Regions from separate parts of the Homo sapiens genome. Here region 2 is linked to region 1. Evidence: fine-mapped expression QTL. A gene starts in region 1. The other region holds a variant in brackets. All regions are shown on one strand. Distances are between the middles of the regions.

The links.
Region 2: its variant is fine-mapped to the expression of EPHB4 in whole blood (TOPMed, PIP 0.92).

What each region holds. Positions count from the first base shown.
Region 1 is chr7:100,824,880-100,830,245 of GRCh38, forward strand. EPHB4 (EPH receptor B4) reads right to left here and starts at 2,644. Exons shown (of 17, transcript NM_004444.5): 1 at 2,100-2,644. The coding sequence starts at 2,151. It also overlaps a transcript of SLC12A9 not described here. RefSeq lists enhancers at 2,648-3,443, 4,240-5,035.
Region 2 is chr7:100,747,095-100,752,460 of GRCh38, forward strand. ZAN (zonadhesin) reads left to right here. Exons shown (of 48, transcript NM_003386.3): 9 at 456-547; 10 at 1,043-1,121; 11 at 1,230-1,376; 12 at 3,531-3,802; 13 at 4,088-4,172; 14 at 4,618-5,366. Among named protein-coding and RNA genes, the nearest start is that of ZAN, 16 kb to the left of the region's middle. The variant G/A (reference allele first, on the strand shown) is at 2,732.

The DNA of each region.
Region 1 (5,366 bases):
GCTCCCGCCGAGGCCTCACATCTGGATTTGGTTATGGGAAGGCAGAGGGGAGGAGATTCTGGGGGGCGGTATGAATGGGAGGGGTGAACACACCTGGCTTGGCTCGGATCATCGGGGGAGGGGACAGGCACTGGAGGAAGGGGGGGGATTAGGAAAAACTGCACAGCCCCTGGCAGTGGAGAGTGGAGGAGGGAGGGTACAGGAATCCCCTCGGGGGCCGGCAATGTGGGGGGCATTGGGCGCTGGGAAGGGTGGAGAGGGGAGCCAGAACACCTGGCTCCCACCCCATGGGAGCTGCAGGAGAGAAGAGAAAGAGGGTGGGTGAGGCAGCCTCTTCCTGGGGACCAAATGATGTCCTCCAGCTAGGGGTCAGATGGGAAGCCAGCCAGCCTGAGGTGAGAGGCGCAAGGTCCCCATGGGTGGCAAGAGACAGCCCTGCTCACTGGGGACAGGATGCCCGGGTTCTGGGAAGGGGGTGGATAGAGGCTGCCGTCTCCACCCTCCATTGTTCCAGCCGGGATAGTGTTTTCCTGTCTCCAATTTACACACTGTCTCTGCCTCGGGCTGTCCGCAGCCCAGAGCAAGCGCAGGCTCCCTTTCTGCGTCCCAGCTCAGCTGCAGCCACGCTTTGATCTGTCAGTTCGCATGTCTCTCACCTATCTCTCCTCCACTCTCTGTCCACCTCCGTTTCTCTTTCTGACAGTCACTATCTCTCCTTCGCTTTCGGCCTCCACTTCTCGCTGTTCCTCGCGGCACAGGGCCTTGGATAAACTACTTAACCTTAACTAAGCCCCAGCCTCCTCATCTGAAAAATGGGGGCAATAATAGCACCACCCTTAGCGTTGCTGGATGGGTGAAATTAATATTTGTAAGGCGCTCAGCACAGGCCTGGTGCTTGGAAACACTCAGGTAATAGGTGTCACAATCACCATTTCCTCTTTGCGTCTTTCCTTCTCACCACACCTCGTCCTCGTGGTTTTTCCACCCCTTTGGCCTTCCTCTTCCCCTCGTTCATGGTTTTTGTTCCCCCTTCTCCGTTCTCTGAGCTGGGCAAGCCTCCCCTCACTCCCAACCCCACACCTAGCCTTTGATCCCCAGCCCAGGGCAGTCCTGCCCAGCCAGGGGGAGAGGGTTTTTCTAACGCCGCTGAATCCTTCCCTTTGGGAGTCCCTCATAGCCTACCGCCCCATAACCACTTTCATACCAGACAGAGAAAGGGGGGTGTTGGCAGCTCACTGAAAGGACATTAGGGACACAGGAGAGTTTCTAGGGCTCTTGGCTCCCCCTTTAGGGGACCAGGAGGGACAGCGATCCATGGCCAAAGAAATGCTTGGAGAGACCAGGAGGTGGGAGATAGACTGGGTTAGTTAGGGCGATGTGGGGGCTGTGTAGGTCAGTTTCTACCTGGGGGCTGTGTAGGTCAGTTTCTACCCGCTCCTAGGTCTCAAGGGAAGCCCGGGACTCACCTGGGGCCGGGGTCTAGACCGCATTTAAAGGGATGGGGTGCAGCCTGTAGAAACCAAGGAGCCACCCTATACCAGGGGCAGGAGCAGTGGGCGGGAGAGCGGTTTGGGGGTTTGCTGTGTGAATGCAAAGGAGGCCATCCTGTTGCAGGAGTGTGGAACTGGAGGATCAAGGTGTGATCGCTAAGGAATTGGCGCTGGGGGTCGTTTTAGGGCCTAGCACGAAAAGTTGTGCCTTGTCTGCTGTTGCTTCTCCAGAAACCTTCCCTCATGTACGGCGGGAGGTGGGACTGGGACAGAAACTTTGCAGATAGTTTTGAATAGTGGGGTAGGGAGGAAAGGAAAGGCAGCCAGGGGCGTATGTAATCAGCAGTGAGAGTTCGGGGAGCCCGGGCAGGGGAATGTCCCGGGTCGTAGCCAGACTCCATCTCTTTCCCAAACAAAAGAAAACTCCACTACCCGTCGGGCGCCTCTTCCCCGCCCCCCTCCCGTTCCAGCACTATCGGTCCGAAGTGTTTGGGACTGCAGTGCCCGGGTAGGGGTAGTCAGAGGCCGGCCCCTCCACTCCGAGGCCCAGATGTTGGGGGGGAGGTCCCAGGAGTGACGGGGTGCGCCCCCCCCCGCAAGGAAACTCACCTTCCAAAGCTGCGGCCAACGAAGCCCAGCAGAGCAGCACCCGGAGCTCCATGGCGCCGCCTCACTCGGGTAGGATCCGAACTGAGTTTGGGGGGCCCTCGCCCCCCCAGGTCTGACTCTCCCTGGGCGGGTGGACGCCGATACTCCGCGCGGGACTCCTCGTCGGGGCCCTCAGCGCGGGCCCATGCGAGCGTGCGGGGCACCGGGCGGCGGCGCCAAGTGTGGCCCCGCGTCTGTGCCGCGCGCGCGGGCGGCGGGCCCGGAGCGTGCTGGCAGTGGCCGCGCCGGGCGGGCGCGCAGCAAGACGTGGCTGGAGTTGGGGTCCCTCCGGGGCCTCGGGGTCCCGCCCCGGGTGGCGGGGGCTGAGCCGGCCGCTCGCGGTCTCCCCCCCTCCCTGGAGTGGCTCTGCTCGCGCCGCCGGGCCGAGTGCTCTCCTCGCGGGCGGGGATGGTGGGAGCCCGAGCGGGGACGGAGCGGGAGGGAGGGAGACTGCGGCGCGGAGCCGGGCGGGCCGGGCCGGGCAGGGGCTGAGCTGCGCTGGAACTGGGCCGGGCGGCGCCGGGCCCGGGAGGGAGGGGCGCGCGGGGGGCGGGGGCAGCTCTCCCAACGCGGGGGCTCCGCGAGTGAGCCCCGGGCGCGCTGATTGGAGCTCACGCTACTGAATAATTCATGAGGGAAGCGGAGAGGGGCACCGAGTGGAGCAGGTCGGGAAGTTGAGAGAAAGTTTGGAGAAGGGGGAGGGGCGGCGGGTGAGGAACCCCGGGACCGCCCAGATGTGCGCCGTGGCGGTGCGCGCTGTCCAGGACCGAGCATGTCGGGGCTGGGGCCCAGGGACCCCCGGGACAGGCCCGAACCCGGCTGGCACCAGGGAGCAGAGAAAACACACACCCAGCAGCAACACGGAGGGCCGCCCAGGCGTGCACGTAAATGTTCACCGCGCACACAAAGCCCGCTCTGACCTTGCTGCGGACTCTAGATGCCGCTCTTGGATGCGCCCACCACCCTCTAGTGGGCGCAGGGACTGCGTTTTGGGGGAAAAGGAAGGAAAAGGGAGTAGAAGCTTTGGAGAATTGACGGCCGCCCAGGGGGCCTCAAGGAGCAATCCCAGTTTGGATAGCCTTGCAGCGAACGTTCACACAGTCACCCCATAAACATTCAGTGTTGGGGACCTACTGTGCGCGCAACCAAGCCCTGAAAAATGTCCAGAGGAGGCGCGCACTAAGCTGCGCTAGGGAGTAGAGAAAAATCGAGGAAACAACGGTAAAGAAAAGGTGGGTGTGGCGGGCGCGGTGGCTCACGCCTGTAGTCCCAGCATTTTGGGAGGCAGAGGCAGGCGGATCATTTGAGGTCAGGAGTTCAAGACCAGCCTGGCCAACATGATGAAACCCCGTCTCTACTAAAAATACAAAAATTAGCTGGGCATGGTGGCGCGCGCCTGTAATCCTAGCTACTCGGGAGGCTGAGGCAGGAGAATTGCTTGAACCGGGACCTAGGAGGCGGAGGTTGCAGTGAGCTGGGAGCTGAGATCGCGCCACTGCACTCCAGCCTGGGCTACAGAGTGAGACGAAATCTCAAAAAAAAAAAAAAAAAAAAAAAAGGTGGGTGTGTCCGAGAGGGTGAGGGGTCCGGCTAGATCTCCAAATCGCCCTTCTCACTCTCACTCTCGTGTTTTGGGGGGGCTTCCCCGCCGCCCGCAGCCATGACCCCTGAGGCTGGGGCTGCGGCTGCGGCTGCTGTCTTTCCTGAGCTGTTTCCTGTCTGGCTCCTGGGGGCCCTCGGGATGGCTGGGAGGGGCCCTTCCTCTCACTGCCAACTCCCCTCACCCTCCCATCAGTTAGCGGGGAGGGTCCAGCACAGCCGTGCTCCTCCCACCAACCCCCTTCTACTTCAGGGAACTTAACAGTATGGGTTACTGGATAGATGGATTGGAGGGGGTGCTGCTCCAGGAGTCAGCCCCTCCAAGGGGCAGAAGGAAAGGACTTAGACTCCCACAGTAATTAGCGGGGACAGATTTTTTTTTTTTTTTTGAGACAGAGTCTCCCTCTATTTCCCAGGCTGGAGTGCAGTGGCGTGATCTGGGCTCACTGCAACCTCCGCCTCCCAGGTTCAAGCGATTCTCCTGCCTCAGCCTCCCGAGTAGCTGGGATTACAGGCACAGGGCACCAACCCCGGCTAGTTTTCGTATTTTTAGTAGAGACAGGGTTTCGCCATGTTGGCCAGGCTGGTCTCGAACTCCTGACCTAAAGTGATCCACCCACCTTGGCCTCCCAAAGTGCTGGGATTACAGACGTTAGCCACCGCGCCCAGCCGGAGGACAGAATCTTGAGGAGCCCAGCAAGAGAGACGTTGGAGCCCAGCAAGAGAGACGTTGGAGTCCAGGATGCTTGGGGGGCTGCCAAGCGCCCTTACGTCCCAGAAAGGACAGCCGGGCCTGTGATAACCTCTTGTCCCGGCTTACTTATCTTCCTGCTGCAAGAGGTGTTCCCCACACCCCTGCCCTTCCTTGCTGTTCTGCCTGGGTCCTGCGCCCGGGTTGGGGGGGGTGGGCCGGTCACCGAGGGCAGGAAACAGCCGGCTTCACTGGAGCCAGGCAGACCAGGCTGGAGCTGGGAATTCCCTCCTCCCTCCCCGATGCAGGCCCAGTCTCCCCTTCTCTTATTCAGCTTCTCCCTCGGGGTTCTCTGCAACCCTCTCCCAAACCCCTGCCCTGCCTTTTGCCACTCTCACTCTGTACCCAGATCCTGTAGCCTCTAAAAGTTATGTCTTCTGGCTGGGGACAGTAGCTCAGGTCTGTAATCTCAGCATTTTGGGAGGCCGAGGCGGGTGGATCACTTGAGCCCAAGAGTTCGAGACCAGCCTAGCCAACATGGTGAAACCCCTCTCTACTAAAAATACAAAAATCAGCTGGGCATCATGGCACACACCTGTAGTCCCAGCTACTAGGGAGGCTGAGGCACGAGAATCGCTTGAACCCGGGAGGCAGAAGTTGCAGTGAGCAGAGATTGCACCACTGCACTCCAGCCTGGGCAACAGAGCCACACTCTGTCTCCAAAAAATATATAAAGTAAATAAATAAGTAAATAAATAAATAGGCTGGGCGCAGTGGCTCACACCTGTAATCCCAGCACTTTGGGAGGCCGAGGCAGGCGGATCACCTGAGGTCAGGAGTTCGAGACCAGCCTGGCCAACATAGTGAAACCCCTTCTCTACTGAAAATACAAAACTTAGCCAGGTGTGGTGGTGCAGGCCTGCAGTCCCAGCTACTCG
Region 2 (5,366 bases), 78 kb before region 1:
AAGTTGTGCTGGCCTGGCACAGTGGCTTATGCTTGTAATCCTAGCACGTTGGGAGGGTGAGGCTGGTGGATCACCTGAGGTCAGGAGTTCGAGACCAGCCTGGCCAACATAGAGAAACCTTGTCTCTACTAAAAATACAAAAATTAGCCAGGTGTGGTGGCACACGCCTGTAATCTCAGCTACTCAAGAGGCTGAGGCAGGAGAATCGCTTGAACCTGGGAGACAGAAGTTGCAGTGAGCCAAGATAGTGCCACTGCACTCCAGCCTGGGCAACAGAGCAATACTCCATCTCAAAAAAAAATAATGAATAAATAAAATAAAAAAGAAGATTGTGCTTTCATTTGGTGGTAATCGTCCCCAGCTATGCCCTCTGCTCCTCATCCTCCTAGGTATAGTTCAAAGTCGTTTCCCAGTCCCCTTAAGCTCACTTCTCCTTCCAATTCCTTTCACTGCAGGGAGTATCCGGAAACACACTCTCTTCTCAGGACAACCTGGGCCCAACTGGCAGGCTGTTTCTGTCAATTACACAGCCGTGGGACGGATACAGGTACAGAGAAGCAAGGGGTCAGGTCCTTGCACATGGTAGGCACACCCAATGTTGAAATAAATTGAGGGGCCTGGTGCTGTGGCTCATGCCTGTATTCCCAATACTTTGGGAGGCTGAGGAGGGAGGATCGCTTCAGGACAGGAGTTCAAGACCAGCCTGGGCAACATAGAAAGACCCCATCTCTACAAAAAAATACAAAAATTAGGCGGGCACAGTGATGTGTGCCTGTAGTCCCAGCTACTAGGGAGCCTGAGGTGGGAGGATCACTTGAGCCCTGGAGGTCAAGGCTGCAGTGAGCTATGATCACACCACTGTACTCCAGCCTGGGCAATAGAGCAAGACTCTGAAAAAAAAAAAAAAAGAAAGAAAGAACTGAATTGAGGGTCTGGGCACAGGGAGTAGGGATTCTGGGTCCTGGAATGGAGTCGAGTTAGATCAGGGGCTTGGGGGTGTGGGCTGTGTGCTCACTCCTGCTCCATCTCCCTTTCTCTCCAGTTTGCCGTGGTAGGCGTTTTTGGAAAGACCCCAGAGCCAGCTGTGGCAGTTGATGCAACCAGCATTGCTCCTTGTGGGGGTGAGAGCAGGCCCTGAGAGGCCCGGATCTCTCAGAATCCGGGGTGGGCTGGGGGAGGGCTGGAGAGCGTCACTCAACTTGCTCAAATATCCTATTTTGATCCCCCAGAGGGTTTTCCTCAGTGTGACTTTGAAGACAACGCCCATCCCTTCTGTGACTGGGTCCAGACTTCCGGGGATGGTGGACACTGGGCCCTCGGACATAAAAATGGACCCGTCCATGGCATGGGCCCTGCGGGAGGTTTCCCTAATGCAGGTGAGGAGATTGAGGAGCGCTCACGCCAAGAAATCACTCAGTCTGCTCCCAGGTAGCAGGCTGGCTGCTGTGACTGATGGGAGACGTTGTTTCAGGCAGTGGGAAGATCAGTCCACAGGTGTTTTTTCGGAAGTTTCCATGGTACTGGAATTGTGGAGATAGCAGAGTAACTTAAAGATTCTCAGGGCTGGGGGGTCACTGAAATCCTGAGAAAACCCAGGCATCTCACTTCATGGAGCCCAAAGCTTCAAAACCCACCACCTCATTTTCAGTCTAGACGTTTATGAGTGGCTCATGCCTGCAATTCCAGCACTTTGAGAGGCCGAGACGGGAAGATTGCTTGAGCCCAGGAGTCTGAGCTCAGCCTGGGCAACATAGTGAGAACCCCATCTCTAGAAAAAAAAATTTTTTTTTAATTAGCTAGATGTGGTGGTGTGTGCTTGTGGTCCCACCTACTTGCGAGGCTGATGTGGGAGGATCGCTTCAGCTCAGAAGTCAAGGCTGCAGTGAGCTATGATTGAACCAGTGCACTCCAGCCTGGGCAACAGAGCAAGACCTTGTCTCTAAAAATTAAAAATAAAAAAATAGGCCAGGCATGGTGGCTCACGCCTTTAATTCCAGCACTTTGGGAGGCCGAGGCAGGTGGATCACTTGAGGTCAGGAGTTCGAGACCAGCTGGGCAACATAGTGAAACCCTGACTCCACTAAAAAAAATGTAAAAATTAGCCGGGAGTGGTGGCGTGCACCTGTAGTCCCAGCTACTCAGGAGGCTGAGGCAGGAGAACTGCCTGACCCCAGGAGGTGGAGACTGCAGTGAGCTGAGATCGCACCACTGCACTCCATCCGGGGCAACAGAGTAAGATTCTGTCTTAAAAATATATAAAAAGAGGCTGGGCGCAGTGGCTCACACCTGTAATCCCAGCACTTTGGGAGGCCAAGGAGGGCGGATCACAAGGTCAGGAGATCGAGACCATCCTGGCTAACACGGTGAAACCCCGTCCCTACTAAAAACACAAAAAATTAGCCAGGCATGGTGGTGGGCGCCTGTAGTCCCAGCTACTCGGGAGGCTGAGGCAGGAGAATGGCGTGAGCCCGGGAGGCAGAGCTTGCAGTGAGCCGAGATCACGCCATTGTACTCCAGCCTGGGTGACAGAGTGAGACTCCGTCTCAAAAAAAAAAAAATATATATATATATATATATATATACACACACACACATATATATACACACATATATATATACACACACACACATATATATATATAAAGAAATAATTTTTTAAAAAGACAATAATGAGGGTGGGGTGCAGTGGCTCACACCTGTAATCCCAATGCTTTGGGAGGCTGAGACGGGT[G/A]GATCACTTGAGGCCGAAAGTTCAAGACTAGCCTGGCCAACATGGTGAAACCCCACCTCTACTAAAAACACAAAAATTAGCCAGACATGGTGGTACACACCTGTAATCCCAGCTACTTGGGAGGCTGAGGCAGGACAATCGCTTGAACCTGGGAGGTGGAGGTTGTAGTGAGCTGAGATCGTGTCACTGCACTCCAGCCTGGGCAACAGAGCGAGACTCCATCTCAAAAAAACAACACACACACACACACACACACACACACACACACACACACGACATTAATGAATGTAATCTAGGTTGCTGGTTTGTTATTCCCTTTTTTTCTTTTTTGAGATGGAGTCTTGCTCTGTTGCCAGGCTGGAGTGCAGTGACGTGATCTTGGCTCACTGCAACCTCCACCTCCGGAGTTCAAGCAATTCTCCTGCCTCAGACTCCCGAGTAGCTGGGACTCCAGGCACGGGCCACCACGCCCAGCTAATTTTTGTATTTTTAGTGGAGACGGGGTTTCACCATGTTGGCCAGGATGGCCTTGATCTCTTGACCTCGTGATCCGCCAGCCTCGGCCTCCCAAAGTGCTGGGATTACAGGCATGAGCCACCGTGCCTGGCCGCTTTTCCCTTTCTTTGTGATCCCACCTTCTTTAGTTAGATGTCTAAAATGAGCAGAAAAAATAATGCTACGACCTGGGAAATTTGAGTGTTTGCTCAGATTCCCGTTCAGAAAGCAAAGCTTTGCTAAAGCAGCAGTTGGCATGTCCTGTGCAGGCTTCTTACCTTGCCTGTTCCCTTCCTTTGCCTAGGGGGTCACTATATCTACCTTGAGGCTGACGAGTTCTCCCAGGCAGGCCAGTCAGTCAGACTGGTGAGCCGGCCCTTCTGCGCCCCAGGTGACATCTGCGTGGAGTTCGCATACCACATGTATGGCCTTGGGGAGGGTACTATGCTCGAACTCCTCCTGGGAAGTCCTGCGGGGAGTCCCCCGATTCCTCTCTGGAAACGCGTGGGGTCTCAGCGCCCTTACTGGCAGAACACCTCCGTCACCGTCCCCTCAGGACACCAACAGCCCATGCAGGTGAGAGACGGAGGCGGGGGTCCTGTCTGTGTGAGGTGAGAGGGCCAATGCCTGGGATCTGGGGGCGCCACCAGTGCTGAAGAGGTGGAAAGCTGGAAAGAGAGCCGAGAAAAGGGGAACTTCGTGTTACAGAAAGTGAGAAAGGGGCCGGGATGGGGCTGGACTGTTGAGGCTGGAACAAGGCGACATTTTGGCAGAGAACAGATTCTATGCCCAGTGGAATCACAGAGTTGCTGGAGATTCATTTTTGTTTCTCTCTCCGTCTCTCTCCCTTGTCGCCTTTAGCTTATTTTCAAGGGCATCCAGGGAAGCAACACGGCCTCTGTGGTTGCTATGGGTTTCATCTTGATCAATCCTGGGACTTGTCCAGGTAAGACCAAAGCCCAGGCTCCAGGAAGGGGGCGGTGCCCTGAGGTTCCCTGGAGTTCTCTCTATGAACTGCTTAAAATGTGAGTCCTCCCTGGAGCCCGAATTCTCACCCAGCTGGCTTTGTTTTCCATCTTCAACACACCTCTCCTTCCCCTGCACTTCAAGATGTTTGCCTGGGTGAATGTGGCTTCGATACCATGGATTTTGGGGGCTGGATCCAGAACTCCTTCCTCTGCAGTCTTGAAGGCTGGACCCATATCCTATTCATTTCTGGCATAATATCTGACATATATTAGTGTTCGTTGAGTGGATGAAGGTTGGGGTTTGGGAGTAGAAAGAGAGGTGTGAATAAGCCACCCATGGGAGCCCACTCCAGTTAGATGGCAGTAAAGAGGGTGGTGGTATGGTTTTGACTAAACTCCAGGGATTCTTATTTTTCTTTGCAGTAAAAGTGCTACCAGAGCTTCCTCCCGTATCTCCAGTTTCTTCCACTGGCCCTTCTGAAACCACTGGCCTCACAGAAAACCCTACAATCTCCACCAAGAAACCTACAGTTTCCATAGAAAAACCCAGTGTCACCACAGAAAAGCCCACAGTCCCCAAAGAAAAGCCCACCATTCCCACAGAAAAACCCACCATCTCCACAGAAAAACCCACCATTCCTTCAGAAAAACCCAACATGCCCTCAGAAAAACCCACCATTCCCTCAGAAAAACCCACCATCCTCACAGAAAAACCCACCATTCCCTCAGAAAAACCCACCATTCCCTCAGAAAAACCCACCATTTCCACAGAAAAACCCACCGTCCCCACAGAAGAGCCCACCACCCCCACTGAGGAGACCACCACCTCCATGGAAGAGCCTGTCATCCCTACAGAAAAACCCAGCATCCCTACAGAAAAACCCAGCATCCCCACGGAAAAACCCACCATCTCCATGGAAGAGACTATCATCTCCACAGAAAAACCCACCATCTCCCCAGAAAAACCCACCATCCCCACAGAAAAACCCACCATCCCCACAGAAAAATCCACCATCTCCCCAGAAAAACCCACCACCCCCACAGAAAAACCCACCATCCCCACAGAAAAACCCACCATCTCCCCAGAAAAACCCACCACCCCCACAGAAAAACCCACCATCTCCCCAGAAAAACTCACCATCCCCACAGAAAAACCCACCATCCCCACAGAA